Linked DNA regions of Homo sapiens: region 2 is reported to be linked to region 1. The links are microRNA targets in miRTarBase. Many come from high-throughput screens and were not tested one by one. Region 1 holds a microRNA gene; the other region holds the end of a gene's coding sequence.
What was found. The annotated mature microRNA hsa-miR-548aj-5p reads UGCAAAAGUAAUUGCAGUUUUUG and lies in region 1 at 3,035-3,057, shown strand. An mRNA with a match to its seed (bases 2 to 7 or 8) in the 3' UTR can be bound and repressed. Matches are read on the target gene's strand: a 7mer-m8 pairs with bases 2 to 8, a 7mer-A1 pairs with bases 2 to 7 and ends in A, and an 8mer does both.

Region 1 (8,484 bases):
ATGGATCTTCATTCCTCTGCAACCCTTAGGATTAAGGATTCTCTTGTAAAAGGGAAGGGGAAAATGTCAGAGGTGTTTGAACCAGAGCAATGCCATCTTAAATAGGAGCTGGGTAAAATGAGGCTGAAACCTACTGGGCTGCATTCCCAGAGGGTTAAGTATTCTAAGTCACAGGATGAGACAGGAGGTCAGCACAAGGTACAGGTCATAAAGACCTTGTTGATAAAACTGCAGTGAAGAAGCTGCAAAACCAAGATGGTGACAAGAGTGACCTCTGGTCATCCTCATTGCTACACTCCCACCAGTGCCATGACAGTTTACAGATGCCATGGCAACATTAGAAAGTTACCCTGTATGATCTAAAAAGGGGAGGCATGAATAATCCACCCCTTGTTTAGCATATAATCAAGAAATAAGCATAAAAATGGACAACCAACAGCCCTTGGGGCTGCTCGGCCTATGGAGTAGCCATTCTTTTATTCCTTTACTTTCTTAATAAACTTGTTTTCACTTTACTCTATGGACTCACCCCCAATTCCTTCTTGTGTGAGATCCAGGAACCCACTCTTGGGATCTGGATCGGGACCCCTTTCCAGTAACAGTTGGCTAAGGAGATCAGAAGTAGGCAAAACTCTATCAAGAAAATCAGGATGTTTTCTCCAGAAGGCAGCACTGAACTATGACTATAAATTTAGTAAGATAGAATGCAGTTGATGATAACGCAGTCCTTCCGGAGAAATACAGGGTGAAGAAAAGGAGACAGTGAACCAAGGCATAGACAAGGAAGATCTAAGGAGCTAGGTGATGTCAGTGCCCATCCAGACTCCAACTAGAGAAAGGGAATGAAAATGAAAATAGTTGTTTGTTCCCTGTAGCGCATGTTCCATGCTAGGTGATGGAGCCTCATTCTGAGAAATTTTCATGCCACGAATCACTCAAATCATACAGCTAATTACCCTTGCTCAATCTCACTTCCTTCCAGACACTTTTGATTATAAGTTGGCTTCCCATAGAGCTCTCCCTTCAGGAGTGAATGTTCTGGTCCTGTCTATGGAGTTCTCCATATTTGGTTTAGTTTGAACCCATGTCAGATCTGTTTGCTGTGTGCTAACCAAATCAAATTTTTCAGCCTTTGCACTGAAGACCAGCATCTGGACTGCAATGACTTCACCTGAGGATATATCATCACTGTGTGTCTCTTTTCAGCGATTTCATACCTCACCTGGAGAATCCCTTACCCATTACACATTTTAATCAAGTAGAGAAAAAAATGAGTAATTGATCCTCATTCTTTTAGTTAAATGGGGCTAGTAAACACTAGTCAGATTAGGAGGGTGAAATTCATTTTTCTTTTATTGTTCAATTCCTAACTTAAACAGATCTCTCTCTTTAAATATAGATGTAGATTTTTCCCTCTGTGGCCAGTAACTTTGTTGAACTATGCTAAGCTGTTTAGAAAGATGGCAAGATGCTTTGTATGTCATTCTATTGCCTTTCAGCATAGATAACTTTGGACAAGTCATTAACTTCTGATTATCAAAAAGATGTGGTAGTCAAATACTCTCATAGCATCACAAAGGGACATAAGTTTAAAAAGCATCTATTTTGAGTAACACACACCTAAAAATAATAGGGGCCGATATTTGAATCAAAGGAAAGGGTATATCTGAATATATCTCATTACTGTGTACTTGAAATGCAGCTTTAAATATAGAATGTTTCTGAGAGTGCTCTTAGGATGAAATTAATAGAAATAAAGTTAATTTCCTGTTTGACTGTCACCATGTGACAATACAAATTAGATGAATTTTCAGCACACTTACAGAGATGTTTAGGATGCTTAGAATACAAGCTAAATCACATACGCAAAATACCCTTGAGGATGCCTTTCAAATAGAGGAGCAGTCATCCTGCAAAGCAGCTGTGATTGGATTACCACAAGCACAGCAGTCCACAAGACTGTCAAAAGGTAAGAACTGTCATGCTGTGGATAGAGAAAAAAGTAGTACTTTTACAACGAACCCCAAACTGAATGACTCAAAGAGAGATGCTATGGAATTACAGGAATTTCTTTGCAACAGAGCTGTTTCTTCTCACACGGGCAATTCTGTGTGGTACATTATATGGGAGTGCCATAGTCAAGATTTTTTTTTTAATTTCACAATGATATGGATTCTTCAAATAACAGTAGAGAGGCTAACAGTGCCATCAACTTCATACCAATACTTCAAGAGCAGTATCCTCAGAATGCTCCAAATAATAACCACTAACACTTATTCAACTAATCCTTATGACTTCCTAATGAAACAAATTGCTATTATTCCTATTTTATAGATGAGAAAACTGAGGCACAGAGATGTTAAGTAACTTGCCCAAGGTCAACTGGTAAGTAATTCAGAATAGTTTGGTTTCAGGGACCCTGCTTGTAACCACTACATTTGAGGCCACACAGTGACTTCATGGAACAACAGTATCCCATGAGATGTTATTAGATATTATATGGAATTGTTAACAGTGCTGTATTAGTCCATTTTCATACTGCTATGAAGAAATACCTGAAACTGGGTAATTTATTTAAAAAAAAAGAGCTTTAATGGACTCACATTTCCATATGGCTGGGGTGGGGGTCCTCACAATCATGGTGGAAGGCAAAGGAGGAACAAAGGCACGTCTTACATGGTGGCAGGCAAAAGAGCGAGTGCAGGGTAACTGCCCTTTATTAAACCATCATATCTCGTGAGACTTATTCACTATCACCAGAACAGTATGGGAAAACCCGTCCCCATGATTCCATGATTCAATTACCTCCCACCAGGTCCCTCCCACAACACGTGGGGATTGTGGGAGCTACAATTCAAGAGATTAGGGTGGGGACACAGCCAAACCATATCAAGTGATGTAGTTCAACAAAAAATTTGGATATGTAGAGTTAAACCAAGTTAAATATTTTTTTTTCTACAGAACTTCTCAGAGTCTTTAATGTCCACTGTGAATTTTCACAGAGCTCTCAGTTTGGAAAAAGGTATTAGGTTGGTGCAAAAGTAATTGCAGTTTTTGCTATTACTTTTAATGGTAAAAACTGCAATTACTTTTACACCAACCTAATATTTAAGATCACTGTTTATTTTCTTGGCATTGTGTATTTTGATATTTTTAAAGAGAAGACTACTTCTACCTTTAAAAATGCTGGCTAAGAGAAAGCCTTAATAAAAATTTCAAAAGAGAAAGATTTGAAAAATAAGTTATAAGATAAAGTTTGTAATAGTCTAAAGTTAGAAACTGTTAGAATCTATTAGAGTTAGAAGCTCTCGAAGCTGGAAAAGAGAGCAATACCGATGTTCAATTTTAAAATGAGGCATTTAAAATAAATATATTGACATGGAAAATATCTAAGTTATATTGCGAGCTGAAAATAGACAAGATAATTATGCTTTTTAATGCAAATGCTTTTAAAACAATGCAGTAGATATATGCATGTACATAATAAATGTAAATGCATAATAAAAGGCACAGGATAATACATATTGATAATGAATCAGGTTGCATATGAAGATGAGAGTTGGATTGTTAGGGGTCAGAGAAGGGATGAAAAGGGACTTATTTCCATATTGTTTATTATTTTGGATGTATTCATGTAACCATATATTATGTCTTTAAAAAATTTTCAAGAACCAATAAGGTGTGGTGACTGACTAGAGTAAGAAGCCAAAGAAAGAAAGAGGCTAAAAATAATGTTAAGAATTGAATCCTAGAAGAAAACAATAGGGAAGATGGAGAATGTGCTGGCTTTTGTGGGAAATAATGGATTTGGGTTTCAGACATGCTGTGAATTAGGTGACACCACCGTGGTTCATCAGCATCATAGTTTTGTGCCTCCAATCTGGCTCTTCTATATGCAATTCCAAAATACAAATTGATAATTGTTGCTTTTATACTGAATACCCTTTGATGTCTTCCCTTTGCTCTTTAAGAGTTCAAGTTGTTTAATATGGTTTACAAAACCCTTCATGATTTGTCCCTTGCTGATCTCTCTCTCTCGTATCTATCCTCTAACCACACTCAAAAGTTCATTCCTCTAAAAAAGCCATAATCTTCCTCACCTCCAGATCTTCCTATTTGTAAGACTCTGCCTGGGATACTTCCCCCATTTCTCCATCTCCTAATTCCTAAGTATCCACAGGGATCTACTTAAATGGCTGACTCCTAGTTTAGCTTAGCTATCTATGATAAACTGAATAATGGCTCCCAGAGAAGTCCACATCCTTATCCCCAGAACCTGTGAATATGTTACCTTAGATGGCAAAACTTTGCAGATGTGATTACGTGAAAGGTCTTGAGATAAAGAGATTAGCCTGGATTAGATGGGTGATCCCAATGTAATCACAATGATCCTTACAAGAGGGAGGTAGTAGAGTTAAAGTCAGAAAAGCAGGTGTGACGACATAAGCAGAGGCTGAGGTGATGGGCTTTGAAGTTGGAGGAACAGCCACAAGCCAAGGAATGCAGATGGCCTCTAGAAGCTGGAAAAGACAAGGAAACAGATTCTCCTGCAGGCTCCAGAAGAAATGCAACCCTGCTAACACCATGATTTTAGTCTCCCAAGACTCATTTTGGACTTTTAACCTTCAGAACTGTAAGATAATACATTGTATTGTTTTAAGACAATATGTTTGTGGTGATTGGCTACAGCAGCAATTGGAAACTCATAGTATCTATCCAATACATTTTCATACTTCTCTTACAGTAACACTGTATCAGTTGGGATAGGCTAATACAGCTTTATTCAAAGTTTGGGTTGCAAACCAGTGCAGGTCTGTAAACTTACTGGTTTGCAATTATATAAGTAAAGAAATTAAGAATAAGCATTTAGAAATTTTTATAGTAATTTGACAGAGTAATTTTAAATCTGTTGAATCTGATGAAAATTTGTACTTGAATGTTTATGTATTTCATGTCTCATTTATCTGCTAATTTACTTAAATTGTATTTTGCAAAAATACTATTCTATCCAGGTTGAAAATAAAAGTAACAAACAACCTGATCCTTCATCACAGACATTTTGAGCAGTACTGGGGTAGACTATGTTGTGACACAAATAACTCGCAAATTGCAACAGCTTGTAACAGCACAGGTTTATTTCATATTTCTTGGCCATGCTATATATCCCTCAAGAATCCAGGCTGTTTAGGGAGCTACCATCTTGAACACTGCCAATTGCCACACCAGAGGGAAAAAAGAGTTCTGAAAGGTTTCATAGTAGGAATTAAATGTCCTGGCCTGGAAGTGAAAAACATTATTTCTACTTACAACTCCTTAAACAGAACTGATGGTCACTTAGCCCTACCCAATTACAAGGGGGCCAGTAAATGGTATCCTGCCATCTGCCTACAAGAGGAAGAAATCGTAAATATTTGGTGAACAATGCTAAGGACTATGCCAAGCACTCATCATGCTGATTTAAAATGCTGATTTTAACCAACATGCATTGGTTTTCCCTGCTAATGTCTAAGCTCTGTGGGATATCTCGTTTTGTCTTGATCAGCCCTGTATTCCTAACACCTCACAACTCCTGGCACCATAGTAGGTATTTGAAAATATTGCCAAATGAATAAATTTATGAATTAAATGCAAAATAAGACATTTGAGAAGTGATGCCTAAAATGAAAATTGGAATATAGCCCCTCACCACAGGGCCTGACAAGCAAAACTAAAGACTCCTCAAAGGGCTTCTGCAATACTTGTATACATCCCATTATTTGCAGTAGAGATTCATAAACATTGTTGGGAACAGTTGATCCCTTAGATAATCAGTGACAACTATAGGCTCTCTACCTCAAAAATATACATATACATTCTAATGACAAAGGGAGGTAATTTCAGGGGTTTATAAACTGTGGTCACCCAAGGGCTTATGGTCCACAGGGTAAGCACTGCTAATACAACATCTTCAGAATAAAAGACTGACTTTGTGTACCCTCTCAAAGTTGGTGTTGGAGAAAGTGTGGGGTAGAGGAAAGGGTATGGGCTTTGGAAACTAATGGAATTAAAATTCTACTCCCTGAGATAATAACATAGATGTGCTACTTTGTCTTTGCATCTCAGTTTATTCATCTGTTAAATGGGCATATTAATATCTACTTCCTGGGTTTGAAGAATATATCATTTGAATATTAAAATGAGTTAATGTATAAAAAGTGTCTAGCACAATGCCTGGCATATAACAGATGCTCAGAAAATTTAGACCCCTCCATCGTTTCTATTCTCAATGAAGTTAAGCAATACGTCATTAAAATGCATCAGTCCAACACAAACCTCCATTCCCTTTGATTCACAAAATACCCAGAGGTCTCTGGCTTCCTAGACTTTCTATTAAGAATTTATAAATCTTAGCAATTCCTTAGAAACATCATAATTTTTAATTAATACCATTATTAATAATACTAATAGTCTTTTTATATGTGATGGCATGCTTGAAGGCTCACAATACAAAGGCAGTGAAAAAAACTCAGGATACAAAATTACTTATGCAGTATGGTCCCAATTATATTAAAAGAAATATATATATATATATATATATATATATATATATATATATATGCACACACATATATGTATTATAGAAGAAAGAATGAGAAAAAATAAGCCAAAATATTAAGTCTATTTCTGGATAGTTATAAATGTATTTTAATATCTTCTTTATAATTTTCTTTATATGTTTTTACAATGAATACATGTTACATATAAAATCAGTTAAAAAAATACAGCAAATGGCATTTCTGTCAAAAATATCTTATAGCCATATTACCTCTGCTTCATATGTCATGATGCACAATGCATATATCCACTGATTATCAATAATTATCATGCTAGGCTACAACACAGGCAAAGAACAGTATGAGTGTCATATAGCTTTGAAGTTAATACATCTAGTTCCTAAAGTGATGTTTAATTCAAAAAGACATGTTCGGTCTGAAGAAAATATAAAACCAAAGAACAGATAGAATGAGTTATAGAGCATATAAATGTTCGTGCAGTAAACACGTATAGAATCATGTGTCAGAAACTATGTTGGGCCAGGCATTGTGGCTCAGGTCTGTAATCCCAGCTCTTTGGGAGGCCGAAGCGGGCGGATCACCTGAGCTCAGGAGTTCGAAACCAGCCTGGGCAATATAATGAGCTCTCATCTCTGCTATAAATAAAAAGTTAGTTGGGCATGGTGGCACACACCTGTAGTCCCAGCTACTTGGGAGGCTGAGGCACCCGGGCTGAGGCACCCTCCACGTGGGAGGTGGAGGGTGCAGTGAGCCAAGAACACGCCACTGCACTCCAGCCTGGGCGACAGAGTGAGACTTTGTCTCAAACAAACAAACAAACAAATAAAAAACAAAAAAAGAAACTGTGCTGGATCTAGGGGATACATTCATGAAGAATGCATAGGTTCTGTTTTCAAGGGGCTTCTCTATTTTCTATTATTTTCTAGTGGAGACAAGCATAAACATAAAATCACAGTTTCATAAATCCCAATTTTGGCTTTGAGAACACAAAGGAAAAAACAATTAGGAAGAAAAAAGTGGTCATTCTAGGTTGTAGAGACAGCAAATGTGAAAAAGTCATAAGAACACACAACTAGTCCAGAAGAAATAGTGACTAACTCCAGGTCTGGGGTCTGGGTTAATATTGGAAAGCTAAGAGAAAGGGGGATGTCAGAGTGGGAGGAATTTGGCATCCAAACAAAGAATATGGACTTTATCCAGTGTTTTTCAAACTGTATCTTCAGGAATGTTTTCTTAGGAAACACAGCGAAAGAGGCTGAGTGGCCAAGCCTGTGGCGCCGACGACTGCTTCAAACAGAGCAGCTCCGTTTTCATCTGTTCTATAAGTTAGATTTCCTGGTAGGATTTTATTTGAAGAAAGAATTCCATGACCTTAAGAAGCCTGAAAACTGTTCTCATGCCATCAAGCTGTTGAAGCTTTAAAGCCAAGGAACAGCGCAATCATATTTGAATTTTTTATTTGTTTTTTGAAAGACCAGCACTCAGTGATTGGATGAAAGACAGGGGAAAGGTCAGGTAGACAAAATGAGGAGGCTCTTGCAGAAGTGCCAGGGAGAGATTAGGAACTAAAGCTGTGTAGTGGGAAGGAAAATAAGAGTCACTTTTGGGACGTTTTAGAATAATCTCAATAAGATCCAGTGACCTCTTCGATGTGGGTGGTATGGAAGAGAAAAGAGAATGACTCTGAGGTTTCCAGCATGGGGAACTGCAAAGGTTTTTAAATTTTAGTGTGCATAAGAATACCTAAGTATATTGTTAAAAATAGATTTCTGGGTGTCTATCTCCAGAGAGCCTGATTCAGTAACACGGGGGTAAAGCCTAGAAATGTTGATGATAATACTGTTCACAGTGATGGAGAGTACAAGACAAAAAACGTTGAAAGAGAAAAAAAAATAATTAATTGCAATTTAGATATGTTGAGGTCCGGATA
Region 2 (7,742 bases), not on the chromosome of region 1:
ATACTGTTCCCCAATGGAGGCCCCTGGCATAGGGGACAGCCCTGGGCATCTTCCTTTGGTGTCTGGCTGTTTTGTCAACTCTCATCCACTGGTGGCTCAGAGCCATAAGGTGGGTTGATTACACAATGCCTTGTACATGATATAGAGGCATCAAGCAAGTAAAATTTGACAGAAATTTTAAAATATGAAGATGTATAGCTTTCCCAAGATGATGGTAAAACCCAGGTTAGTCATCAGTAACCTTCTCTATTATTATTATTTTTTAGAAACTTGGAATACTGTCGTCATGGCTAAGAGAACAAATCTGATAAATTGTGTAACCTAGTCTCTTCTCTACATGGTGATGCATTTCAGCAATTATAAATTAATATAAATGACCAAAAGTAACTTAAAAGCATGAGATATTTGCTATTTCATTCATTGGGCACATATCAAATTATAATTTTGATTTTAAATGGTCACCCATGTATTTATTTGTTGCCAAGCAAGTAAAAAAATACCCTAACAAACCTGATGTGGGTGGGAGGGGCATGTCAGTAAGTGGTGTGTTCAATGTGTTTGTTTCATATGGGCCCTTTCCAGGAGTTTGCAAACCTTGTCATACCCATATGCAAAACTGTGTTTCCTTGCATTAAACCAGTGAAGTTTGGGTTCTCTTTTGTGCTATCAATCAGTTGTAAAATCAGAGCTGCTTATATATTCTACTGGAATAACTGCATCTTCCACTCAGTCACTACAAAAAAGCATAGTTTCAGTTTGCATGAATTTTTTTTTTTTTCTTCAATGGCTGTGCAGATAAGGATCCATTTCTGGGATAGAATTGTATTTTTTAAGTCATTTTTTTTTCTTGAAATGGATATGTACAAATAAAATAAATGGAAGACAGGATAACTCTTTTTCTATTTATTTGTAACTCACATCATTCTGGAAAGCATTTGAAGCCTTATTCCAAACAGAATTAGAAGCGAACACAGAAATAGTCAAGATGATTTACGATACGCTTATATGGTTTTAATTTTAGCTATAGATCAGTTTTGAGTTATTACAGAGAGAACTCAATGTATTCATGATACATGGTAACTGTCATATTTCCTCTTTCTCTAGCACTCATTCTGAAACAGAAATGTTAGTGTTTGCTAAAGAAGAAATTAAATTTCTTTGGTTACAGTTACGCCTCTATTAACAAAAAGGGGCATGTTCCCATAACTCCCAACAGTTGTCAAATACTTTAATACTACCCCAAGTTGTCACACTCTCTATCGGGGAGCATAATAAGTACCTGAGCAAACTGGAAAAAAAAAAGGTTACAGGATGAAAATCATCAGTTGTGCCAGAAAACATAAAATGACTCTTTGTAGGGATTGACATTCTTGAAACACATACCATATACTGGCAGACACAGTCCATGCCCAGCACAGCTCTGACTGCACAGGTAAGGAAAATGAGACAGCAGAGGGGCAGAAAGGTCCAGCCATCTTTTACAGGCTTCTACGGCTGTAGCTGACAGCCACCTTGAAAAATTTAGCAAGGGTAAATGGCTTTGCCCCTGAAGAGTATCTAGAAGTGCAAATCAACTCTTCTCTAGAACACATTACTGATTTGAATGGCTTGAAATGATATCACTACTTTAAAGTCATAAGATTTTAATACTGGAAAAGACCTTAGAGGTCTCTGTCTAGCGAAAGACCTGTGTGTATGTAGAAGACATCAGAACACAATCTAAACTCCTTTACAATGATGTGTTTTCAAGGCCACATCTGAGCTGGCTTGTGCCCTCTTCGACGCCATCAACTACTACTCTCCTCTTGCTCATTTGGCTTAAGCTACTCTGGCCATCTTAATGTTGCCAGAACAAGCCACGGTCTACTGGCTCAGGGCCCGTGTGCTACTGCTATCCTTCTGCCCCTTCCTACAGATTATTCATGCAGCAAATTCCCTTGCTCTATTCTGGTTTCTATTTGAATTTACCCTGGCCAATAGAGGATTTCTTTGCTTATTCCATCTAAAATGGCAGACTATTCCCCATTCTCCCATTATTATTTTTCTCTGAGCATTACTTATCTTCAAAGCATTTATCCCTGCCTGAATTGAAGTAATAGTTTTTATTTACTTACTTATTGCTGGTCTTCTGCATTAGATTATAACCTCCATAAGGACACGGCTTGGTATCTCCAGTCCCACACACAGTAATTATTATTGAGAGCTAACATATTTAACATACTCTCTGCACCTCCAGTTTTCTCATGTATACAATGGAGAACATAATAGTAATGAACCTCATAGAGGAACTGAGGATTAAACAAAAGTTAGTAAGACACACGAATCATTTACTAGCTCCTAATGTGCAATGAAAGGTAGTTCTTTGTCAACACTTACTGAGTGCTTCACTTCCACAACTGGGACTAAGACCCAGAATTTTCACTCCAGTGTCCTTTCCATTACCTTGCTTTTTTTTTTTTTTTTTTTTGAGACAGCGTTCTCCCCCAGGCTATTATGCCATGGCACCATCTCGGCTTACTGCAGCCTCAACGTCCCAAGTTCAGGTGATTCCCCCAAACTCAGCCTCCCGAGTAGCTGAGACTACAGCCACGTGCCACCATGCCCATTTGTTTGTATTTTAAGTAAAGACAGGGTTTTGCCATGTTGCCCAGGCTGGTCTCAAACTCCTGGGCTCAAGCAATCTACCTGCCTCGGCTTCCCAAAGTGTTGGGATTACAGACGTGAGCCACCATGCCCAGCCCCATTACACTACTCTTAAAAACATGGAAGAGAATCAAGATACACAGCCTATCTAGGGTCCCACAGAGAACCAAAACCACCTCTGCCACCCAGGGTTGAATCACAGCCTTTGGGTAAGATAGAGTCCAATTCCCCTGTCCTCTCACAGAACTGTCAAGATGACCTTCTGATGCAAGGCCTCTAAGGATCTCACAGACACACTCAATCATAGGTGGTGTCTCTCAAGTTCCTGGAGGAAAAAAATGTAAACTCACCAAAATGTTGGTCATACAACCAACACATATTTATTGAGAATCTATTAAATGCCAGGCCCTAGAGATACAGACAGACATGGATCGTCTCTGTTCTCATGGAGCTAAATGTATTATAACTCTGAAAACTCTAGTTAACTAGCTACATTAACTGTAGAAAAAAAAAGTTGTATCTTTTTTCTGGGATCATATAAATAGAAGAACATTTTTCATCAAGAAATAAAAACAGTTTACAGCCTAAACAGAACAATGTCTTCATAAGCTTGTGGAAAACCCTACTGAAATCTGAAGACTTCCAATCCCATCCAGTGCATCTATAGATGAACAACAGGCTTCAAACTTCAATATCCACAATAAGAAATAGTTTTATATAGCACACAACACATATTTATGATTGAAAAAGACATTTCACAAAACAATATTTATCTTTATTACATGTGATGTACCATTTTCTCTATTCCATTTTTTCAAATGTTCATACCTAGTAAATTTTTGTGTTCTGTGAATCAATTTAAACAAAAAGGGGAAGGGGGGAAAACAGACAAGGCATACTATTAGGTTAAGTGAGAAGCACCCAACATGCATAGAAGAAAATCCTACCCAAGGCAGGAAACACAAGCCTTAGTCCCAGCTTTGCCTGAGACTTTGCAAGCCTGGACATATGCTCAGGTTTGTACTCTTAGGAAGCACACCACATCAGGAAAACAGAATGTAAGGCAACATCTGCACACCTCCACTCCTAACACCTAGTGTTGCCTGACACAAGGGGAAATTCCTGCTCAGGAAACAGGATAGTAAGGCAGACGCTGACTCTGAAGTAATCTGCCTAGGTTAAAATCCAAGCATGACCACTTTACTAACTATACGACCTTGGGCAGGTTAATTAACTTCTCTCTGGCGAGATTTCCTCATATGACAACAGGATAATAAATGACCCTGCCTCATAGAGTTGTTAAGAATTAGTTATCATATGCTTGCTTGGCACATAGTAAACACTGTATCAGTGTTTTCTATTATTATGCATCACACAAAAGGAAACCTCCTCTACCTAAATCTTACAACAATGGTTTTAGATATTAAAAGTTTCTTAAGATGTGCAAATAACTTGAGCACAATATATCAGGAAATAGATCTTATCTACTGAATACCACTGAATAAGCAATGCTTTAGCAAGTAGGTCTTTTACAGTCTGTTTTAGCTTACAGTCCAATAATTCTATGTAGGCAGATGGTAGCCTACCGGCAAATGACAGCTCTGCCCATTATTCCTGCAACTCTCAAATTAAAACAATAACAAAACACTACCTACTACTATCTGAACTTCAGGGCCTTTTAAAGCCATGGGGGCTGTTTCCTTGGAGCTGAAAAATGCAAAACAAACACATCTTCTGCTCAAGCCGAAAAATCTTCTTAACTCAAAAATCTCAAAAAATGTTTGCCCTAGAAAAATGCATTCAAATGGTTTGTCTATTCCATTTATATAACAATTGTATCACTCATATCCCTCTTCCAAAGCATACATCATACTTTATGGAATTTTTGAATGGATCTGAATGGCTTTCCAAAACTAACTGGTATTATTTCTACACAAACATAGAAGTTACCATCAAGCATTACTATCTTGCCTAATTACAAGTTGAAGGCAGATCTTCTGGCATATTCACAAAACATTTAATATAAAAACGCCCAGAATGCTAATGATTCCCCTCTTCACCCACTAATAATTCCAGGGTGAGAAGTTAAGCTCAAGTCCATTTACTTTCCTTCTGTTATGATATATTATATCTATATCATCAGTGATCTTTAATCAATATATTACTTTAAAATTCTCATATTTCTATATTTAAAATTCTATTACTTTTCTCAATTAAAAAAAATTCAGGGTATGATTTTAGTACCCTGCTATGTACTGAAGAGAACTAGTAAATAATGTTCCCTTGATTTAAAATAGGAAAAAACAGGTGATTCTAAAAATTGGGTCAAATATAACAATCAATCTTAGAATATTTATACTATCTTTTCCTATAGTTAATAGTAATTTCCAGGAAACAAGGTGATTTTTCAAAAGCCATCTGTTTAAATACATGGGGGCTTATCTTCATGAGACACAACTAGAAAAAAAATTTTCAACTTTAGTTTTCACACCTGAGCATTAATAATTGCCTTTTTCTTTAACCATGGTCCGTGTTTCCTTTTTGTAAGCTAGTTTAATTTAGTGTTTCAGCACACACTGAGTAAAAATCTTTACCATTTTTTACAGGGTTGCTTAAGATCACCCTCTTTTCCATAATACATTCCTTATTCTTCATAAATGACAGAAAGAAAACTCTTAAATATGTGAAGCAAACCATTTTAAAAAATACCAATTTCTGGTTTTAACACTGGTAAAAAAAAAAATCCAAAATCTAACCAAAAGGAAGTCACAACAAGCATTCTATAATATAAACAGACAGTATCCACATAGTTTATTTCTCACAGTTCTCCTGACAAATGAACATCATTCAAGAACATACTGTATACACAGATAAGAAGAAACATACAAAATGTTTTAAATGATGCACAACAAAATCCAGCAGTATAAAAGAATGCATGTGAACCCTTGCTCACTGTGCAGACTAAATTTAATCACTTGTTTAAATAGTAATAAAAATACAATCTTTTATGGATCTTGTGCAGACTACAAAAGAGGGAAATTATTACCATATATATGATTTTTATATTAGGCAGTTTTCTTTGATGAGTTGTACTGACAACTCCAAATACAGAGGCAGAAGGCTGTGTATTTTAAAGGAATTAATGTTGTGAATTAGAAACTTTACACAGTTACTACCACTGGCACTTTTCACCATAGTTTGTACACATCACATGATCATCTTATATAACATTACATTTAAAAAATATATCTGAGTGACAATTTTATAACATTCACACACCATGAGCTGGTTAAGGAAGCAATGCCACAGTTGCCTCCTGTAGTGCTTCACTGTTGGTAATTAAGGACAATTCATTGTGGTTAAAAGAAATTAGATATCAATATGATTAAGCAGCTCCAATTTACTAAAGGCCATCAATGACCACCACTGGGACAGTGAGTTCTTTTAAAGTGTATATCCTAGAAGCAAACACCATCATTGGTTAAAACTTTGTCTAAAGAAGTCAGTTTCTGTGCTGAAAACTATTTTCACAAAACTGAAGGCTACTAAACTGTTTTAATATAAATACTTTGTCTTCTCATTATCATATTTATGACCAAGTTCTTTGAAACCTTTGGAATTTACTCTCTCTTTAATGTGTGCTCTCGTTCCATCTCACCCATTTAAGATCACCACCTAAAACGCAGTGGTGAAAAATTCACCAGGGAAACCTTTGCTCACCAGGAATGTTCAGCTGCTGAACAGTGATCTAGAGCCACAACGGTGCAGAGCTGTACTTGACGAGAACACTCAGGAAGCTCTCATGCTGTGAGTGTCATTTCTGGGAAAGCAGAGAATCTTTCCAAACTGTGCACATAATTAACAATGATACCATTGCTATGTGTTGAAGAGGACTAGTAAATGATGTTCTCTTCCATGTCATCTGTTTGCTGGAAAGTAGTTTGGGTCAAGGTAATTGTAACTGGTGCCCTGAGACACACAGTAGTCTCTGTCTAAGAATGTCTCTGACCTATAAATAGGTTCTAATTGGTGATCTTCCTTGTGAATATCTGTTTCATGTAGACTGTAAAGAAAAAAAGACACACATCATTACATGGTAGTGGATGCATTTTAGTCTGTGTATTACAAAGCTTCCTCACAGCTCTCCCTGTTTAAATCCATTAATCTATCAAAATCTCCAACGGAAAGTTACTTGACATGTGGTATGATTACAGAAAAAAATTAATTGCCTAGAACAACAAAATTTAATTCACTAAGTGTGGGTATTAATATTTTCTATGTTTGGAAATCAAATTCACTAATGGCTGAGAAGCTCTTTTCTTGTCTAAGTTGAAGACTGACAATGAAGAAAACACTTACCAGTCTGAACAAGAATCACAGAAATCCAAAGACATTTCTGGAGGACAATCCTGGCAATGCCACCGAACACCCTGGATGGGTTCTATGCCACAGTTATCACACTATAACAGATTCAGAGAGAAAATGTATTAAGTTATACTGTTCCACGATCTTTTTTATTTTCCACAAGGAAACACATGATGTGCACACAGACATCTTCTCTTCTCTCTCCATGCACAGGACAGTAATATAACACACAAATGGTTATGTGTTAGAGACAATTTCTAGCAAACTAGGTAAAATTCCATCCACTCAATATCAAGATATGGGTGAGTGAGAGGAACATTGGAAGGGATAATCTTCAATCAGCTTAAATTTATTTAAAAATTTTTAAAAGTAAATCATCTCCAACTTGGGTGTTTTGTTATTTGTAATCATCTACTTGAAAGGTACCTCAGACCACTGTATGATGACTATGGTTGAGAAACAGAGAGTTAATACCATAGTTAAAACTATCCAAATACTGGTTAAGGAAGCAATGCCACAGCTGCCTCCTGTAGTGCTTCACTGTTGGTAATTGATACAGAATTGTTTTAGCAGGTTCTCTTGGCTAACATAAACCCAGGCAACAATGAAATTCTGTCTAAACTTTTATCTCTTATTGAATCGCTCTCCCAAAGCCTAAAGACTCCTAATAACCAATGCCCATCATGTCAAAAAGGCAGATCTAGCTCTTTCTCAGCGTGGTGGCATTGTGACAG

Region 2: the mRNA of ZZZ3 is a reported target of hsa-miR-548aj-5p. Seed matches in the 3' UTR shown: 7mer-A1 at 4,359-4,365.

The regions. Positions count from the first base shown.
Region 1 is chrX:38,018,522-38,027,005 of GRCh38, reverse strand. MIR548AJ2 (microRNA 548aj-2) reads left to right here and starts at 3,020; the gene lies at 3,020-3,111. All of the region lies in intron 1 of SYTL5 (synaptotagmin like 5), which reads right to left.
Region 2 is chr1:77,559,079-77,566,820 of GRCh38, forward strand. ZZZ3 (zinc finger ZZ-type containing 3) reads right to left here. Exons shown (of 15, transcript NM_015534.6): 14 at 7,003-7,103; 15 at 3,338-6,706. The coding sequence ends at 6,562. It overlaps AK5 (adenylate kinase 5), which reads left to right. Exons shown (of 14, transcript NM_174858.3): 14 at 1-888. Among named protein-coding and RNA genes, the nearest start is that of ZZZ3, 120 kb to the right of the region's middle.